Homo sapiens: one gene and its partners. The protein of the gene in region 3 purifies or fractionates together with the protein of the main gene of each other region. This does not show direct contact. Each region holds a gene or a part of one and is shown on either strand. Other genes may lie near its edges.

What was found. The genes of interacting proteins can lie anywhere in the genome.
Region 1: the proteins of NRBF2 (region 3) and MTCL3 purify together in Homo sapiens (affinity purification with mass spectrometry; 3 studies listed by BioGRID and IntAct, with this or other methods). This does not show direct contact.
Region 2: the proteins of NRBF2 (region 3) and TGFBRAP1 purify together in Homo sapiens (affinity purification with mass spectrometry; 3 studies listed by BioGRID and IntAct, with this or other methods). This does not show direct contact.

Annotation. Positions count from the first base shown.
Region 1 is NC_000006.12:127,509,327-127,516,358, forward strand, and holds part of MTCL3 (microtubule cross-linking factor 3 precursor), read right to left. Parts: coding exon 6,188-7,032; intron 5,975-6,187; exon of another isoform or gene 5,722-5,974; coding exon 5,497-5,721; exon of another isoform or gene 4,961-5,496; intron 3,724-4,960; coding exon 3,565-3,723; intron 1,915-3,564; exon of another isoform or gene 745-1,914; intron 1-744.
Region 2 is NC_000002.12:105,270,727-105,277,758, forward strand, and holds part of TGFBRAP1 (transforming growth factor-beta receptor-associated protein 1), read right to left. Parts: intron 6,946-7,032; coding exon 6,888-6,945; intron 4,978-6,887; coding exon 4,834-4,977; intron 2,965-4,833; coding exon 2,818-2,964; intron 2,289-2,817; coding exon 2,129-2,288; intron 1-2,128. UniProt on the Homo sapiens protein: Plays a role in the TGF-beta/activin signaling pathway. It associates with inactive heteromeric TGF-beta and activin receptor complexes, mainly through the type II receptor, and is released upon activation of signaling.
Region 3 is NC_000010.11:63,136,298-63,143,329, reverse strand, and holds part of NRBF2 (nuclear receptor-binding factor 2), read right to left. Parts: intron 1-7,032. UniProt on the Homo sapiens protein: May modulate transcriptional activation by target nuclear receptors. Can act as transcriptional activator (in vitro). Involved in starvation-induced autophagy probably by its association with PI3K complex I (PI3KC3-C1).

The DNA of each region.
Region 1 (7,032 bases), on a different chromosome or scaffold from region 3:
GGAGAAGATAGACAGATAGATGTGAGGAGGTGCACAAGACCTTGTGCAGCCACCAGTCCTGAGAGCAATTGGTCAATACCCTTGAAGCTAATTAAATTTTTAGCAAACAGTTCTAAACTGTAGCAGATGGTCTATTGGTCCCAGCGGTGCTGTTCAACATCTATATGACTCCATGTAAAGATCTAAAAACTTGGAATTGGAGGATTGCTTCTCTAGAGTATATTCTATGATTTTTTGACTTTACTCTATAACTAGTGTCTTTTCTCTTAATGGAGAGCTTGGCCTGGTTCTACTTTTCTCCTTTAAAAAAATGACACGAAGGGATGACAATTCATCACTCACCAAATTAACCAAGTTGGTTAACACTCACCAAGGGCTTGAATATGTTTTCATTTTACAACCAATGAAGCAGATGGTTAACTGAAGTTGTTGCAAGTCATCCAAGGAGTAGCTTACAACCCTTATCCACAGAGTAAGCCAGTTATAATTGCAGCTCAGTTTTAATATTTACCGTTTTAGAGCATCATAAAATTACCATTGCAAAAATCTTATCTGAATGAAACATTTCTGATTTCTAAACATATTGTTAAACTACTTTTTCTATTTCTGACATTTTTCTGAACACTATGAAGGTCAACCTCAAATGGATAATTATAGAGAACTCCTACCAGAATATTATTTGGTTTTCCTTTATTATATTTAGTATCCTCCAGATGTTTATCTTCCACTCTTTCTCCCTTCCTGTTTTTTTTTATTTCTGTTCCCCACCACCTTCCATCTTCTCAAATCGTGAATGCCATTTTCCTAATAAAAGATTACTTTAAAGGCTGATGTTCTGCATATATACTCCTAAATTATTTTTACTTTTATTGTTGTATTCCCTAATCAGGCATTGACATTTGGTTTTTTGTAACTCCAAGGACAATCAAATTGCCTCTTTGGTATGAATATATATACCCACACTGCTTGGTGCTGGAACAGCATTCTCCCAACCCAGAAATAGAGCCCTGAAGGAGGAAATAGTCACAGGGAAGAGTGTGAGCAAAAGAATCAAGGAAACGCATCTTTACAATCTCCTGAGGACATTCCCAAGCTCTACCCTTTCTTCCTGGTGGCCAGATTATTTTGGCTTTTATTTTAAGATGGGAGAGGTCCCATTGTTCTGGCTAATGGATAGACAGTCTATGCATATTTTCCCCTTTAATGGAAGTAAAATGAAAATCAGAAAGCTCTTATGCCATTCTTAAGTACAATTTTTCAGGTATCCACTTAAAACATTCACATGACACCAAATTACAAGGCATTTCTTTTTTATCTCTGGTAATCAAGCGAAGTTTGTTTGTACTTGAATGTTTACAATTTAAAACACTCAAGGAATATGAGAGAGCACAAGTAACGTATGAATAGGGAATGGCGCCTATGAGACTGACAATGAACATTCTCTTTGCTTGCTCACAGGAAGCTATTAGATTGTTGCTGCTGTGGGTTGAATTCTGTTCTCTCCTTCTACCCTCCCTGTCAAATTCATATATTGAAGTCCTAACCCCCAGCTGCTCAGGATGAAATCTCATTTGGAGACAGAGGTATTTACAGAGGTAATCAAATTAAAATGAGGGGCGGGTGTGATGGCTCATGCCTGTAATCCCAGCTCTTAGGGAGGCAGAGGTGGGAGAATAGCTTGAGCCCAGGCAGGTCAAATGAGGTCCTTAGGGAAGACCCTAATCTAATATCACTGATATCCTTACAAAAAGGGGAAGTCTGGAAACAGAGAGCTACAGGGAGAATGCCATGTGACCATGAAGATGGCCATCTACAAGCCATAGAGGGAGGCCTGGAACATATCCTGCCTTCGCAGCCCTCAGAAAGAACCAGCCCTACTAACACCTTGATTCCAGACTTCTAGACTGCAGAACTGTGAGATAATACATCTTTTTGCTGTTTAAGCCACCCAGTTTTTGGTATTTTGTTACAGCTACCCTAGAGAACTAATACAGTTACCTACTTTACTTTTTTTTCTATAAATGAAAGTCAATTTTTGACATACCTTCAACTGTACATTATTGTTGAAGAAATATATACTTATAACTATATTAATTTCATATTTGATCTTTTAACTTTAGGGAAAAAATCTTTGCCATTCCTTAAATGGCAATGTTCTGAATTTCATGAGGAAAGTCTTACATACCAGAAAAAGATGTTGAGAATCATCAAAAACAATCTTTCAGTGTAGAACTGGATAAAAGTAGACAAGTACAAGTTACAGGCCTTTTAAAGTCACCCAGTTACTGGTGAAAATAGATCACACAGCTCCCAGTCTCCATATTTTTCTACTATAGCACAGAGCGACTCCTAGCTAGTAGCCAAGGATTTTATATCATTAAAATATTTTTTTACTATTTTCTTATGCTAAAAAATGTTTAAAGTCAGGATAATATAAGTAAACAGATCACAAAAAATAGTTTACTCCACTGAAACTGTATTCTTCAAAGTCCTAAGACATATTCTTAATCAGACTGTTGATAATTGCACTGTTATTTGCATTATATTTTTGTACCATTTTGAGATAAGCACAGCAATGACAGGTGGGTAAATACCTCAGTCTGTGGAAAGATTAGAATTTTCTTTAGAATTCTGCTTATCCAAGCAGAGGAAATTTTTCGGAAGACAACTTGTGCATTTGCTATTTCTCAATGGTAGTTTTCACAAGTTGCATTGTACATGTTCAGGTAGCTATCAAAGAGAAGTATAATTTAATTCTAATTAAATTGCTGTTTATCTTAAAGCTAATCATTTCTTGATAGGTGTTTCTGTCTCTTTTCTCCTCCATTTCTTTACCTTGATTCTGTTCTTTTAGAAGACTCATGGTAAACACATTTGGAATCTTCAAATAGCTGACATGAAGGAGAACTTTACTCTTCTACCCTAAAGGGTATAACTAAGATGAGCTGGCTAAAGTTGCAATTAAATATATATCATGTAAAAAAAAAAGGAAAATCTTTAAACAGAGCTATGATATGATACAATTGGCTGCTGTAAAAGATCTTCAGGGATAGTCACTGGTGATATTGCAAGCATTAGAACATTGCGGGAAGGGCTGGCTTTGCTATATATAGACTTCAAGCAATGAATGGATTAGATCAAATGGACCTTAGAGTCTTTTCCATCCTAAAAATTCATGGTTCTATGAACTCAATTGTAAGTAATCTCATGGGGCTAATTATTCCCCTCAACTATCACAAGTCTCATTCCTTCACACGCTTGACACTCTTTGCATTTAATATGCTGTGGAATTGATTTAATTAACATACATTTAGAAGACACAGAGATGAAACACAGAGATCAGTCAAAGCTCGTACATGTCGAGTTAGATACCGTGTTTAGGTCAGAATCTTTCGTTGCTACTCATTTATTAGTATGAAATCATGTATTTTTTACTATTTGGGTAAGAGTAAAAAATTGTCCTGCAATCATAAAAGAAATTTTTTAACAGTCATATTAGTCCTTGGGATTCTTTTTTAAAGGGCTAAAAATACATAGTACACCATGAAATAATCAAATACTAACCTCTTTCATTTTTTCCAGTTCATTCTGTAAAGCTTGCTTTGCAATTTCAACTTCTATGAGCTGTTGCCTCAGTTTCTCATTTTCATCTTCTGTTGTTGTTCTCTTTTCTTCCACATTTTCTAATTCATGGTGAAGTCTCACAGATACATCCTTTGCAACCTGAATTAAGGTGTTTGTAACAATAAAATATAATTAATGACAATATAATAAGGGCTAAAATTGTATTCCTATTGAAAGCATTAAAACCCAATATTTATATGGTGTTTACCATGTGCCAGGCATTATTCCACAAAGTATACATATAAGCCATTCACATATATCAATCGTTTAACCCTACAAAAATCCCATGGGATAGGTACTATTATTACTTCTATTTTGTAGATGAGGAAACTGAGTCTCAGAGAGGTCAAGGTCACACAGCTAATGAGTAGACACTGCTGGGCTAAGAGGCCTGGCAATCTGGCTCTAAATTTTGTTCCCTTAACTTCTGCACTACTCTGTGGTAAAAAATGTTCTATTGCATTTTATCACATGTAGAGAAATTTCACAAATTTCCTTTACTTCAGCAAAACTATGAGGTAGATGTTTCCATTATAATCTATGTTAAAGAATGAAAAATTGAAGTTTTTACAAGTAGTGGGTTGGGCTTGAATTTCAATCTTATAGCTTGAATTCCAGTTGCTTAATCTTAGGAAAGTTTTAGTCCTTGAGATTATTATTTTTTGAATGACTGTGCATTTTTGCCTCATATTTTGAGATTATCCTGGAAATTCTAGGGTTTGGAAGAAAAGTGGAGCAGACTGGTGTAGAGGCTTAGGACACAGGTTGTGATTTTGGACTGAGTGGAGAGTCAGCCTGGCACCTATTAGCTGTTTTCCAGGCCTGGGCACTTAACCTCTGTAAAAGGTGTAGCTTCTGCACCTATAAAATGGTGCCTTAATAATCCCTACATTGTAGGATTTTTTTTCCCTTGAGAATTAAATGAAATAATAATGTATGTAACAGTGTTTGCCACAGTGCTTAGTACATACTAAGCACTCGACAAAAGTTAAGAAAAAAAGTAATACGTCTTTCATAAAATGTTTACACATAGCTTTCTTTAAAACAAAGATTACACGTGATCTTTAAATCCCAATGAAGTTAATGCAATGAACGTATACTTATTTGGTTGTGCAAGGAGATTAAGTTAATGTCTAGTTTGCATAGTCAATGAATCTGCCTACAGTCAAACTGAACTGGAGACCACACCTGTCTAGAAAATGCACTTCAAGGTTGAGATTTTTCCACTGGAAGAAATTCTGAAGGAACAATTGCACTTTAAAAAAATGAGATTATTTCATTTACCTCACACCAAACAGGCTGCAAGTTGGTTATCTGTTTTTTTTTTCCCCCTCAGGGAGTCACCTAAGTGGCAAGTGCAGAAAGGAAGAAGTCCTGGAAGAAGGAAGTGGAGTGGACACTTGCTGAAAGAAATCTTAACTCTAGTATCTTCCCAGTGCAGTTCCTATTTTGGGTTTCAACTCCCCCAGAGGAGTCCTTTTAGTGCAGCTCCTGACTGCCCGATTCCACCGGACTTCTCTCAGTAGACAGACTGAAGGGCAGATCAAAGGCTAGAGCCTGCGCTCTGCCACGCCCTTGCTTCTGCCCAGAAGGGAGCCTTCTTCTCATCACCTCTTGAAGAGCCACCTTTGCTCCCAGGAGAGCACACTTAGCTCGTTTGCTGCCAGGCCCTCCACACACTCTGCACTCTTTAGAGCCACCTGCCAGTTCTCTCCCTTCTGAGACCCTAGTATTTTGTGGTTAGCGCTACGAAACTGTGTCCCTAAGGCTCCTTGCCAGTCGCCACTGAAGACTTCTCAGCCTAAAGAGCCCTTGGCCAAAGTCCCCACCCACCGCCCCTGCCGCGCGCCATTGAGCCCCCGCGCCGCAGACCTTGAGGTCCTGCTCCAGGCTGCGCAACAGCTCCCCGTCGATTTCCCCGGTCTGGGCGTAGCGGAGCCTTTTGCGCTCGGCTTTGCGGAGGCGGTACTGCAGGATCCGGCAGTTTTTGTTGGCTCTCTCCAACTCGTGGCGCATTTCCTGCAGTTGACAGGCATCCTCCTCGAAGAAAGTGTCCCTCATCTCGTCCATCTCGGTTCTCAGCTCATCGATCTCGTTCTGAGGCGGTGACAGGCCGCGTGTCAAAATCAAACTCGCTTCCAGCCCTTCCGACACACACCGTACACACCCCATTCCAATTCCAAATTCTCAGCTTTAATTGCCCTCTCTCTCCACGAGACAGGAGTGACAAGGAGCTGAGTACAGAAGAGGAAACTGGGGGAAAAAGGCCCACTTTAGGCCCTCTCTCGTTCTCTTACTCTACCTCTCTCCAGGAAGAAGTGTGACAAACCATTATAATTAGAGAAACGGAGGCCCAGATTTGAATTTAAATGAAAACCTCGCGTTACTGAGAGCAGATTCAAATTCCGGCAAGGCCTAGGAAACCCCCTCCCTCCTTTCTTGTTCTCCTCCCTCTTCAAGGCTCCCTAACAGGTTAGCAGCCTCTGATCCCTGCCGGTACACGCCCTAATCCTCCCAGGCCCACTCTTCCCATCCCCCAGCCGGGTCCCCCCACCCTCCTCACCTTGAGAGTCTCGTTTTCCTCTCGCAGCTTCTCCATCTCCTCTTGCATTTCTTCCTGCTCTTGGAGCTGCTGCGGGTGCGGCTGCGACGAAGGGGGCGCTGCCGCCTGCATGCCCCCGCCGCTCGCGCTGCCCTCTGCGCTCTGCTGGGGGCCCTCCGCCGCCGCCGCCATTGGGGAGGCGGAGGCGACGGCCAGGGTCTCGCAAACGGCAGGGGGGCCAGACACCGGGGAGCTGCGGCTACTGCTGCCGCCGCCGTTCTTAGCGTGCATCTGAGCCGCGGCCGCCGCCGCTGCCGCCCGCTCCTTCTTGAGATGGAACTGGATGAGCTCAGACTGCAGACATCCTTCTTTCCAGTAGCTCCCTCCACCACCGCTGCCGCCCCCCGCAACGCCGCTTCCGGAGTTTCTGCTGCCGGTTCCTGGGGTTTTGCCCGCAGAAGAGGAGGATGGAGAAGGGGAGGCCCCCTCCCCGCCGCTGCCGCCCCTCTGCTGAGCGCGTACGCCTTTCCCTCGCCAGCCCCTGGGCGGCGGCGGCTGCGGAGCGCCCCCCTCCCTTTCCCCGGAGCCGCCGCCGGCTCCTCCTCCTTCCCCGCCCCCTCCTCCCCCTTCTCCGAGCGGAGGGGGTTCCCCGAGTTTCGAGGGCACGGACTCTAGCTCCCGAGGCGGCTCCTCGGGCGGTCCGGGCCTCCTGCCGCCCAAAGCGGCCAGGGTCGCGGCGGGGGCCGCTTCAGCACCAGCCACAGGCTGGACAGCTCCCGGAGCGGCCCCTTTGGGCGCCAGGGGCGTCGCCTTCTCGGCCCCACCTCCGCCTCCTCGGATGCTGGCGGGCGGCCCCGTGCGGCTCC
Region 2 (7,032 bases), on a different chromosome or scaffold from region 3:
TACGCAACGCCTTCATCCTCACAGTGGAAGGCCAACAAATAATTACTAAGTGGCTGCCATAGTTAAGACCCTGGGTGAGGTACAAAGACAGTTAAGAAAAGATCACTGTGGTGATTTACACTTCCACATCTATCATCTCATTTATATTTGACTCCCACAGCCACCCCGAGTGGATAGGTTGGGCTGGAATCGTTTTTACAACTTCCCTAGACTGACATTTCCCCAAGTCATCTAACTAAGAAGGGATACAAAATCAGTGTTTGGATTTCCAGTGCTCCTCCCACAGTGCTGCGGGGGATACCCCCATTGCCTGAAAGCTCCCCTGTGCTACCTGCAAGCCCAGGCTTATACCTAATGACTGCTCATATAGGGCCTCTTCCGGGAGGCTGCCTCTGACCCCTCCACCCCAAGGCACAGCTCGTGGGTTCCTCGGCCCTTCTAGAACTGTACCTGCCCTTAACTGCATTCCAATTAAACTCTGAGTCTCTGAGGACCAGGACCAAGTCTCATCCATCTTTGTATCCTCAATGCACAGTGACACACTCTACATACTCAGAAAAGCTGGCGGAATGCAAACATTGAACCACACACTTGTGGCTGGCCTGAGAGTTTTATAAGGAGATTTGTAAAGCAAAAAGAATAAGTCAGGAGTGAGTAAAAATTCAATAGCTGGGACACCCTGGCACTGATCAGTCAGGGACGGTGGCTGTGAGTGAACAGAGATTGCACAGCGGATCGCCACAGAAAGTCCTAATGTAGGTGCAGGTACAAGCCAGAACTAGTGTTTGCTGGTTTCATGAAATACCAACCCACACCTGTGTTCTGGCTCTACTGCTCGTGGGCTGTGTGACCTGTGGCAAGCGGGGTAACCTCTCTGGGCTTCAGTGCACTCTTCTGTAAAAATGGAGGAAAAACAGGCCTCACTTCACAGGGTTGTTGTGGAAACTGTGTCATAAGGCAGCCTCAGCGTTTCAACCTATGCTGGGCATATCTAGTCAATCCTCATTATTTGTGGATTCTGTATTTACAAAGTCATCTACTCGCTGAAATTTATTTGTAACCTCCCAATCAACACTCGCAGCAGCTTCAAGGTCATTTACGACAAGCACAGAGCCTGATGCAGAGCTGAGGCCAAAGAAGGAGCGCCCTCCTTCCTTGCTTCAGCTGTCGTACTAGCTACACGTTTCCTTTTCACGGGCTATTTATTGCCATGCTTTTTTGCATTTTGGTGCTTCTTGTTGGTGATTTCAGTGTAGTGCTGAAGTGCTGCCTAGCGCTCCTAAGCTCTGGAAGGTTGTGATGTGCTTTATGGAGACAACACGTGTGTTAGATATGCTTTGTTATTGGTCAAAAAATGGTATTAAAGGCCATTAAAGAAAAACACATCACTAACCCCAGTGAGTATAAATGCAGAAATTCTTAATGTGGCAAGAAACTAGTTAATTCTACCAGTTGCAAGCACCATGCTGCGCTGTGGAACTTTACACAATACAGAAACTGTGGCCTCTGTACCCCTGAGGAACAGAAACCCAAATGCCCTCCAAGACACCTGCATAACCTTCTTGCTTAGAGCTCGAGGGACCTGAGCCTTGAGCAGCTCGGGAATGGGTCGCTGGGGGCAGTGCCTACTGCAAAGCCTTGATCAGAGACTGAAGCCGTCAGAGGGAACTATGACTCAGTGCTTTGACATTGAATAAAGACACTGTGTGTCAAGAGACACACAGACGTCTAAAGTCTACCAGGGCAGCACCAACATCATCAATCAAAGGGCACCGTCCATCTAGAGGCACGGTCCATCTCTAGAGGCACGAGAAGCCTTATTTCTCCCTGCAAGGAGGCTGACTCTGTCAAAAGAGGCTCAAGGGCTGAGTGTGGTGGCTCACGCCTATAATCCCAGCACCTTAGGAGGCAGAAGCAGGAAGATCACTTGAGGCCATGAGTTTGAGACCAGCCTGGGTGACAAAGCGACACCCTGTCTTCATTTAAAAAAATCTTTTTAAAAAAAGAGGCTCAAAGAATCACCCTGTGCAATCAACCAGCAGCTGTGCCAAAGCCCTTCTCTCTGCTTCCTCCCACCCGCTTGATATGAGTTTTTTCCAAAGGGAGACAATACTGAGATCATCCTCACCGAGAAGAAAGTGGACTCGGTATAAATCAGATTTCTGGAGCAGCCGCCGCAGCTTGGCCTGCGTCTCGGTGGCCTCTGCACCCTTGCCACTGGCGGAGGCCCTCTGCAGCAGCACCTCTTCCAGGTACAGCACAGCTAAGTGGGTGTGATACTCTTCTTTCTGCAGGAAACAGGGGGAGCCAAGCAGACAGACAGTGTTTTCAAGTGGGAAAGTCAAAGCTCTCCCCTGTCAGCCAGGGCTTGGAGACCGCGGCTGCACTGACATGAGCTGGGCAGATGCTCACTTGCTGGATCGAAACCCTCTCAGAAACCATGATACTGAGATGAGTTTACCATCTATGGGGAATAGAACAAAATGTCACCTCTTATTTCAAGAAGTAAGGGCCACAGAATTTAGATAACCTACAAAAAGGTATAGCTCCCTTTATTTCCTTTAAGGATAATAACAAAGAAGGAAAAGAGAGGAAAAATAAAAGCTGAGTGGGTGTGAGACGGACGGAGAAAAAAATAAAGCTACCTATTGCTCCAGGTCTCTTTCCGCAAGCCTCAAGGCCGCCATCAGACCATCAACAAGTACGGATGGATCACCCAGGGAACAGACATTACACAGAATCACATGCCAAAAAGTGTTCTAGTTCAATTCCGTCTCTCCAGCCCACACTCTTTAGTCTAACTTCTGCAGTGCTCACCTGCAGTCTCTTGTCTATCACAAGATGTTCCAGATACTTCACAAGGGCTTTAGGGTATTTTTTAAGGCAATTGATAATGTCGTCTGGATTAAAACTGTTCTTCTGCTGTTCATCCAAAGGTCTCTTGGTGAAAACCTGAACTCCGACCTGAAAGAGGAGCGACAATACAGTGACTGTGCTTCCCAAACCCACCTTTCCTTTAACTTTATTTTGGTCATTGCACATTCAAGCTTTGGATAAAATCATCACTTAAAATATGATTAAATTATTATGTATGCACAGCTTTTTGTATGTCAATCATATCTCAATACAGTGGCTTAAAAAATATAATTATGGAGAAAAACAGCCCAGCATGAAGCACTGTCAAAGGCCAGAGGGCAAAAAATCAAGATAGAAAAGCCAGCCTATACCCTGAAGTCCTCCTCACACACCCCATGCAAATTGGAAACTGAAGAACAAAGCATTTACTGGTGACAGATTTTGACAACCTATAATAATAACATTAAGATCATCCAAGAACAGGGATAGCCAGTTGCAGAACAGTATGTGAAAAGATATCAAAAGTGCTGAAATTTCTGTACAGTAAACTCACTTCTCTGAACATGGATTATCTACTCTGGGTTATTTATGATAGATGGTTAATCTGAGATCTGAGCTTCCAGTCCCTGAGTAAGTTTCCGGGCTGCCTTCCTGTGTCCATCAAGTGGAGGCACTGGTCCAATCCTCTGGTTCAAGGAAAGGACAGTGAGGCAGGCAGGAAAGCAGCTCTCCACTGCACCTCCCCTGAGCACTTACATGTGGGAGGTTCTATCATGTGCACGCACACACGCACCTCCCCCCTCCAAGGCCAATACATTCACGTATCATGTATTATGGTATGAATTTTGGATTCTATAAGCCTGGATTTGTGTCCCAGCTCTACCAACTATAGCCTCAGTTTCCTCATCTGTAGCTAATGCCCACTGAGGGGCTGCTATGATGTTTAAGCGATGACCTTTGTCAGGGGATTGTCCACCGTGCAGTATCTGCTGTTATCATCCATAAGCATTGGGAGAAGCCTAAACCTTGCAACGGCACTGAGATCCATGTTGTAGGTGTGTGTGAGCAGGTCAGGATGTGCTCTGCAGGCGTGTGCACAGAGGCAAAGTAAAGATGGAGAAACAAGTATGCAAAGTGCAAGTGCCTGGCTCTGATTTTCCAGGGAAGCCAGCACCACGGAGGATATGAGAATATATTCCAACTCAGGTCTTAGAAAGGCAGATGCAGCACTCAGAAACTCTCCATTCAGGACCAACGTCCTGCATCAGAAAGCTCATTTTGTCTCTCCAAGGGGAGCCATGGAAGCGTATACGTTTTTCACGATGAGAACTGAAATGCTTGCTGTCTTCTTCCCAGTCACCTGTGGTCACCTGTGGGGCTTTACTAAGGATACTGTCCTGAGCCTGCTACCTTCCCTCTAGCCAACAGGTGCTTTTTCACTGCCAGCATTTCTCAGCCTCCAGGACAGGCCGAGTCTTGCTCATGGCTCCCCTCCCTCCTCCAGGCCCACAAGCTCCATGTTGGCAGTGGTGGGAGCAGGGATGAGGGCCCAGTGTGGCCCAGGTCTGGGTGCTTCCTCCTCCCAAAGATCAAGTCCTTCAGGGCAACCACCTAATCCTGCTCCAGAAAACAGCAGTGTCAGACTTCTGAGGGGTCGAGGAGCGGGGTTCACAGACACAAGTTCTTAAGAAGATGCTAAAAATGCAAGCTGGCTATGTCTTGCTTTTCTATACAAGTGACTTGCCCCAGCAAGGGGATTCTCAATGGAATGTCTCAGCAGCAAGATGCAGAACTGCCCTAGAGCTAGAATCCAGAGAGCTCAAGGGAAGGTATTAAAAGGGGAATAATAACAACAACAAAAAACAGAGGAGGAGGTTGAAATGTAGCTTTCTTTTCCCCTCCTAAAAGCAAAGCTTTTGGGGTCTGTTTTTACCACCTCCCCCAACCAAAGAGAATGCATTTTTACGAAGCACAAACCTCTTCACTTTTCTGCAGGACCCAATCAGCATAGGCCCACACTAGTTCCTCGTCTAAGCAGTAGGTAAGAAAATCCACGATGTATTCATACAGGTCTGAGCGTGTGGAGTCCTGGACATCGCCATTCACAATGTTCACCCACAACTGGAAAGGAATCAAAAAGAAAAAAAGAAAAAGAAAAGAAAAAACAATCATAAAGGCACATATCTCAGAATTAGTTGAGAAATGGCATATGTTTACTTATTTGGCTTTTTAATACCTTTTAAAGTAGTTGGAAAAACTGTAAATGCTTAAATTTTAGTTTTTTTGGAGAAATAAAGAAATGTAAAAAGACATAGTCCAAGAAATAAAAAAAAAAATTAAGCTCTAGGTTCTTTTATCTTTCTTTCTTTTTTTAACAATAACACAGTAAACAGAATATATGCAGGGAGGTGAATATATTAAAAATGTTTCTTCATGAAATAAAGAAAACGGTCACTGATAACATCTCGACACAGAGAAGATTCACCTACAACCATCAGCCAGGCTCTGTTTCCATCTTCTCCGTCACAGACATTCTTGATTTTGAAGTCCCCTTTGGACTGTGATAGGCAGATGTTGTGCTTTTACAAAAGCTTCAGTGATTCTGTCCCCTGAGTTCACACTGCCTTTTGCACAGGGGGCTCAGGATAGACTCCAGTGATAAAAGCCTTTTGCTTTTTCAGCCAGAAACTTCCCTACCATGTTAAGTGAAGCCTACTTTCAGGACCCCAGAATGAGGCAGCATCACTTGGGGGTAGAAAGGATGACGGTTGCGTGGGTTCCTTCTGCAATACCTGCATGGCGTGCCTCACCCACCCATACACAGCACCACCCCTCCAAGCCACAGCACCAGGAAGGAGCCCAGAAACAGGGGTGGCATATGAATTCTGGAATTCTGATGTCAGCATACGAACATTTTTTATGATACTAGTTTCTTCAACACAGAATTGCTGAAACCAAATAATCACACATACCTTGAAATATGCCATTTTATATAAAATTCTACCACGTATGGAGATTTATCCCATATCACTTCAAGTTTGCAAATCTATCTCTCTACAGCTCTGCTAAAGTTATTACTATACTTATATAAAGCTGTAACTGAGAACACCAGGTTTTTGAAAATGAAAATTTTATCACTGACACCCAAATCTACTCTTGGCCATTGGGTACGTGTTAATTCACCCAACTCCATTTTTTGTTGTTGTTGTTGTTCTGCTCTGCAATCAGGTTACCACAATAGTCTCACAAAGCAATCAAACACTAAATACATGTTCAGCCTTGCCAGAGTCATGAGGTTAACTTTAGCTTGGGGAACATGGCTGATGCTCTTGGCCCCTCACAAAATAAAGCAAAAAGGCACATCAGGAAACAACACGGTGCAGTACAAATGCATAACTAATAACGAAGGGGAGAAAGTCTCCCCCTGAGAGTGTGAGATGAGGCTTTTCTCAAGATCAGTAGCAAGATGTAAGATACAAAATGTGACAATGCTAATAAATCGATGCCATTTTGATTAGGGTGCAGGACCCCTGCCAGGCCAATGGAGCGCGGTTCAGATCCCAGATCTACCACGGACACATGGCCTCGGGCAAGCAACTGGCATGCATCAGCTTTGGTTTTGTCACAGGTGACACAAGGATAATAATGTACCCAGCTCATTGGCAACAGTGATCATCACTAACAGTGGAAATGGTAAATCCGACTATCATTCACTGCCTAAATTTTCTGATAAGGGTAGTGATATATTATGACTTGGAACTCTGTGAGATCATATTTTCATTTCTTAAGTTTTCAAAAACTCAGTCTTGATAATGTTCTTTAAGGAGATGGAAAGACAATGAGAAGAAAACTCTTGGCCAACATTTCTCCAGGAATTCACTTTCTAAAACAGAATCATTTTTATTCTGTATAAAAGGGTGTAGATCAGGCAAAAGTGGTCTCTATCAACTTGTGAATTTTTTTTAAGTAACACTAAGTATTACTTACATGGTGCTGATTTTTAAATCATGTGGAAACCCTTCTAGACTCACCTGAACTGCAGCAGCATCTTGGTTATTATAATGATAGAGCAGTCCAAGTGCAAAATACCTGAAACAGAACAACACGGTAAGTACAACCTCTCCCCATCAGCTCCTGGAGGCGACCTTCACACAGTGACACCCCCAGTCCAAGCTC
Region 3 (7,032 bases):
CAAATCATACTCAGTATAAAACACAGGTGAAGACAAAAGTAGAAAACAGCACTTCCAGCAATGCCTTGCTGTTTGCCTTTTCCCCACTTCTATTTTTGTAGGAAAGAAGCAACAATCTTAAAGACAAGATTCGTGCCTTTCAATTACAGGATTTCAGATACTTTTTATTTTTTAAATAGTAATCAAACTTTCCTCTAAGTCTTAACATATGCCTGGGAACAACAATAGGTCACAAGAAATGACTGGGTAGGCTGGGCGCAGTGGCTCATGCCTGTAATCCCAGCACTTTGGGAGGCTGAGGCAGGCAGATCACTCAAGGCCAGGAGTTTAAGACCAGCCTGGCCAATATGGTGAAACACCATCTCAACTAAAAGTACAAAAATTAGCCAGGCATGGTGGCACATGCCTGTAATCCCAGCTACTCAGGTGGCTGAGGTACAAGAATTGCTTGAACCTGGAAGGCGGAGGTTGCAGTGAGCTGAGATCGTGCTACTGCACTCTAGCCTGGGCAAGAGAGCAAGACAGCCTCAAAAAAAAAAAAAAAAAAAAGAAAGAAAGAAAGAAAAGAAATGACTGGGGGCTTAAAATAATGGATGAATTTTAACCTGGAGACTTGGACTGAGCAAAAAATACATTCTGAACACATGAGCATTTTCTAGTACCCACAAATTATACAGGTATTTTGGGAAAAGAATGTACATGATGAAGAAAGCTAGTATGCACAAGCAGTTATGATTAACCTAATTTCTCTAATGAACATGTTTTGATACTATTAAAGCAAGTGGTATTAAATCAATAAGCAATAAGGCTCTAGGTTTTAATGAAAATACAAATCACCTGGTTAAAATACAGATTCTAAAAGGCCGGGCATGGTGGCTCACACCTGTAAGCCCAGCACTTTGAGAAGACGAGGCAGGAGAATTGCTTGGACCAGGGCGGCAGAGGTTGCAGTGAGCTGAGATCGTGCCATTGCACTCCAGCCTGGGCAACAAGAGTGAAACTCCATCTCAAAAAAAAACAAAAAAAACAAAAAAAACAAAGGTTCTGATTCAGGAGGTTTGGAGTACGGCTTGAGATTCCACCCAGGTAAAGCCAAAGTTGCTGGCTTATGGATACACTCTAAGAAGCAGGGATGAGATGCTATTTCAGGTTACTTCATTCTAACACCTTTTTTCTATCTGTGTGTGTCGCTGATGATTTCAATCACTTTCTTCTAGTATGGATATTTATGTAGCTCCATAATTAAACTTCAAACTCTGTGATGACGGAATAAATTCTTAATTGAACACCAAAAAAATAAAAAGTTCTCAAACAGTGAGAGCAGGTCCTCATGGCTCTCCCAGCTCCCTTAAAACATCCCCATGTAGAGTCCAATCTCTAACCAGTCTGCCAATTTAGGAGTTAAATCTCATTATAGTTTCAGATTATTACTGAGCTCAACAAAAACACACCATCTCCTCTAGGTTATTTGGCACCAGAGCAATCAAATTTCGTATTTTAAGTACATTTCCTACTATGTTCTTATCAGACACACAGCAAACTCGTTATAGAGCTCGACTGCCAACGTTCAAATCTCAGTTTGACCACATATGAGACACATAAGCCCGGCTTTCCCAATTATCTGCCTCAGTTTTCTCATCTCTAAAATGAAAGTTATTGTCTGCTTATGTAAATTTGATGGCACCAAAAACAAAAGAGTTTGTGAAAATTAAACTAGTTGAAACATCACAGTGCTTAGAATGGTGCCTGGTACTGGTACATACTCGATATAGCCCTCGTTAAGTACTACAAAAGACAATAGAAGTGATGGAAGTACCTGCCATCAAGAAGTTGACAATATAGTTGGGTCTAGACTGAATTGCATTTTAAAAAAATTTTCATCTTAATTACTTTTGAGACAGGGTTTTGCTCTGTTGCCCAGGCTGGAGTGGAGTGGTGCAATCATAGCTCACTGCAGCCTCAATATCCTGGGCTCCAGCAATCCTGCCACCTCAGCCTCCTGAGTAGCTGGAAATACAGTCACACGGCACCACATCCAGCTAACTTTTATTTTTTGTAGAGGTGGGGTCTTGATATCTTGCCCAGGCTGGTCTCAAACTCCTGGGCTCAAGCAATCTTCCTCCCTCACTCACCCAAAGTGCTGGAATTATAGGCATGAGCCACCATGCCCAGCTAAATTGCATTTTTTATAAACTGAAGATTTTACAGAAAACCTATCTTGGTGGTGCTTCTCATTTTTAAAACAACTTTTACAGTTTACACATATTAAAACTAGTCTCTCTTTAAATACTGTTCTTGGTAGAATCACAGCCATTAAAAGCACTAGGCTGAGGCCAGGAGCGGAGGCTCACGTCTATAATCCCAGCACTTTGGGAGGCCGAGGCAGGCAGATCACGAGGTCAGGAGTTTGAGACCAGCCTGGCCAACATAGTGAAACTTCATGTCTACAAAAAATACAAAAATTAGCCAGACATGGTGGCGCCCACCTGTAGTCCCAGCTACTCGGGAGGCTGAGGCAGGAGAATCGCTTGAACCTGGGAGGCAGAGGTTGTGGTGAGCCGAGATTGCGCCACTGCACTCCAGCCTGGGTGACAGAGTGAGACTCCATCTCAAAAAAAAAAAAAGTAATAGGCTGGGCACGGAGGTTCATGCCTATAATCCCAGCGCTCTGTGAGGCCGAGGTGGGAGGGCTGCTTGAGACCAGCATAGGCAACATAGTGAGACCCCATCTCTACAAAAAATAGAAAAATTAGCTGGGTGTAGTGGTGCACACCTGTAGTCCCAGCTACAGGAGGGACTGGTAGGAGGATCAGAAGCTCAGGAGGTTGAGGCTACGGTGAGCCGTGATTACGCCACTGCACTCTAGTCTGTGGGACAGAGGAAGATACTGTCTCAAAAAGAAAAGGGTAGTAAGTCCATAAACATGTTTCTCTGGTAATTCAAAGAAATTCACAATAAAGCAGTCCCACCTCTGTGTACTTCCTAGGCAATCCATATGATTCTGTGGGACTTCCCACATTCTTTTTTAATTGCTTGATGGGTTACGTTAGATTGAGGTCTACAGCTGTGGTTGCCCATCATTTCTGACAGATGATTCGTTTTGTAAACAGCTGACATAAACTTATGGTATTGATAACTATAGTATAGAACTATATTTTCTCTTCCTTATGATTTCCTTGCTGTTTTTTTTGAGATGGGGTCTCATTCTGTCACCCAGAGGCTGGAATGCAGTGGCATGATAACGGCTCACTGCAGCCACAACCTCCTGGGCTCAAGTGATCCTCCTATCTCAGCCTCTCAAGTAGCTGGAACCACAGACATGTGCCACCATGCTCAGCTATTTTTTTTTTTCTTTTGGTAGAGACCGGTTTTCACTATGTTGCCTAGGCTGGTCTTGAACTCCCGGGCTCAAGCAGTCCACCTGCCTCGGCCTCTCAAAGTGCTAGGATTACAGGTGTGAGCTACCATACCAGGCCCACATTGTTGTATTACCTTGTCGTCTGGATACCTAAAGAATCCCTTCTCCAGATTTTCAAACTTAGGAGCAGACAATATGAAGAAAGTCTAATTAATGTGACATTCAGAGGCTAGCCAGGTGGAAATATAGGTCTGCAGAAAGGAGGAGTGAAGCAGACAAGCCTGAAAAGGCAAAAAAAGAGAGGGAGAGTCTGATTAAGTCGGACTGACAGGCTCTATACGGTCATAAACCAAGCTACATTATACCCCTGCCCTTCCTGCACCTTTCTTTGGAGTCCAGTAAATTATCTCTTTTGGCTTAAGCTAATTTCAAGTGGGTTTTCATCAACTACAACCAACAAAAATCCTAACTACAACAACTAGGTTACTAAGTGACTGCCATCACTGACAAGTACCTTTTACTTCCACATGCTAACTGCTTCAAAAATACATGTTCAATACTACCCTCTTTCCCAAAAGAAAACAGTATTACTTTCTATTATTTTTTTCTGTGTCCTTGGGGAAAGCTGTTAAGTAAAGATGAAAAGAAAAGGAACACCAGGCCAGGCGTGGTGGCTCACGCCTGTAATCCAGGCACTTTGGTTTGGGAGGCCAAGGTGGGCAGATCACGAGGGCAAGAGTTCGAGACCAGCCAGACCAACGTGGAGAAACCCCATCTACGCTAAAAATACAAAAATTAGCCAGGCATGATGGCACGCGCCTGTGGTCCCAGCTACAAGGAAGGCTGAGGCAGGAGAATCGCTTGAACCCCGGAGGCGGAGGTTGTGGTGAGCTGAGATTACGCCATTGCACTCCAGCCTGGGCAACAGAGTGATACTCTGTCTCAAAACGAAAAAGAAAAAAAGAAAAGGAACACCATATGAACACAGCACTGAAAAGGCAGCAGAGGAAAATCTAACATACACCTGACCTTATGGTAGGGTCTTCAGTTGAAAGAGAAACCTCACTCACTCCCCCTTTCCCAATCAATGTGCGTCTCCTACAAACAAGTAGCAAACAGTTATCTCAAATCAATAAGCACTGAATTGACTAAGTAATATAACGCAATTATACTGAAGATAAGCGCTCAAGTGTTGGAGAATTCCAGGAAAGACTTTTTTTTTTTTTTTGAGACAGAGTCTCGCTCTGTCGCCCAGGCTGGAGTGCAGTGGTGCGATCTTGGCTCACTGCAAGCTCTGCCTCCCGGGTTCAGGCCATTCTCCTGCCTCAGCCTCCCGAGTACCTGGGACTACAGGCGCCCGCCACTGCACCTGGCTAATTTTTTGTATTTTTAGTAGAGACGGGGTTTCACCGTGTTAGCTAGAATGGTCTCGATCTCCTGACCTCGTGATCTGCCCGCCTTGGCCTCCCAATTTTTTTTTTTTTTTTTGCGACAAGGTCTCGCTCAGTCGCTCAGGCTGCAGTGCAGTGGCGTGAGCTTGGCTTACCACTATCTTCACCTCCCAGGTTCAAGCGATTCTCCTGTCTCAGCTTCCCAAGTAGCTGGGATTATAGGCATGTGCCACCACACCTGGCTAATTTTTGTTTTGTTTTGTTTTTTGATACGGAGTTTCACTCTGTCACCCAGGCTGGAGTGCAAGGGCGTGACCTTGGCTCACTGCAACCTCCACCTCCTGGATTCAAGCGATTCTCCTGCCTCAGCCTCCCAAGTAGCTGGGATTACAGGCACCCACCACCACACCTGGCTAATTTTTGTTTTTAGTACAGACAGGGTTTCATCTTGTTGGCCAGGCTGGTCTCGGTGACCTACCCACCTCAGTCTCCCAAAGTGCTGGGATTACAGGCATGAGCCACTGTGCCCAGCCCAATCTTGCCTTCATATCCTACTATCACCACTTACCCTGCATTTCAAAGTCTTCATCTTTAAAATAGGGGGAATATCTCATATTTAGCTATTAAGAGGAAAAGATAAAAAATATACATAACGTGCCCGATGCCAATCCTACCACTTAGCAATAATTGCTGGATATCTCTTAGTACTCTCTACCTCCTTTTTCCAGAGTGCTTTCATTATGCCTAGCTCAGCTTGTGACAAAGAAATTTTCCTTGGAATTTTTCAGGGCAACAAAGAAGGGGTTCAAATTGCCTCTTTTTACCTTGAAGATTTTAAAGCCAATATAATTAAAATGGGATAGGTATAAGGACTCCAGGTATGCATAAGGCCATTCCTTGGACCATGATATCTGACTACTTTTCTTACAGAAGCTGGAAAGTAAGAGGCTTCATTAACTACCTCATGTGATGTGAGAACTGACCACTCTGGAGGGAAGCTGTTACTCAACAAACATTCTCAGCACTCTTAAGGGCTAAACACATAGAAAACGATTGTGGCCAGGCAGTCACATGGACCCTGCCCTTTGCAGCAGAGGTAAGCAAAACATGAGCAACAGCCACATATAAATTAAGATCTGACATCACTTTCCAAATCAGCAGCAAACAAACCAAAGAACTAGAAATTATCTCACAAGAGTTTTGACATTTGTTACCAGTAGTCACACTGACAAAATGTGTACGGAAAGAAATATCTAAATATACACTAATTTTATAAGTTATAATTTTTCCATATTTAAAACTGACAGGCTGGGCACAGTGGCACATGCCTGTAATCCCAACACTTTGGGAGGCTGAGACAGGAAGATTGCTTGAGGCCAGGAGTTCAAGACCAGCTTGGGCAACACAGCAAGACCCCATCTCCACAAAAAGTTTTTGAAAAAATTAGCTGGGCATGGTGGTGCAAACCTGTAGTCCCAGCTATTGTGGAGGGCTCAGGCAGGAGGATCCCTTGAGTGTGGGCAACAGAGTAAGACCCTGTCTCTTAAAGAAAAATTGACCAAAAAACCCTAATGAAACAAAGTTATTCAGAGTGCAAAGACTAGCTATTTTTTTCTTCAGTGGAAGTACAATTTTTCTTTTGACAAACTTCAATAACCAGATAATTAGAATCCATTACCTCTGTGGTACATATTAAAATGAATATTTCAAACTAGTCTCTTCCAGATCTTAAAAATTCACTGTGAGGAATTTCTAAGGCCCTTACTGCCAAACCTAACATAAAAGAATCAATACTGGAGCAGAGGTAATAAATGCTAACACAGAATCTACAGTTCAATATAGATGAGAACCATACTGAAATGAACATGATGAGTACAATATGGCAGCATTGCTAGAAAGAGGTCTTGATATCAAAATAACTCGTGATTCATAATGTATTTAAGTTACTGACCTAAGTAATTACCTAATTCTCTCAGCTTAGGCTTATTTATCTGTAAAACTGGAAAACACACCTTACTAAGTTCCGAGGATGCTCTGAGGACACATGATTACAAATCCATGTACTGTGATAAGTCCTTATACAATGAATTTGGACTACACTACGACGTCATTTGACAAAGCTTATTGCATTAGTAACTCTCTGAGTATAGAAAAAGAAAAAGCTTGTATAATACTAGTGGAATTTTCAAAGACATTCAAATTATAGCATTGAGAACTCTCATCTTGAGTCAACTAGATACTAAGTTAGGTGTTCACTGACATAAAAGAATGTCAGAATTTTCA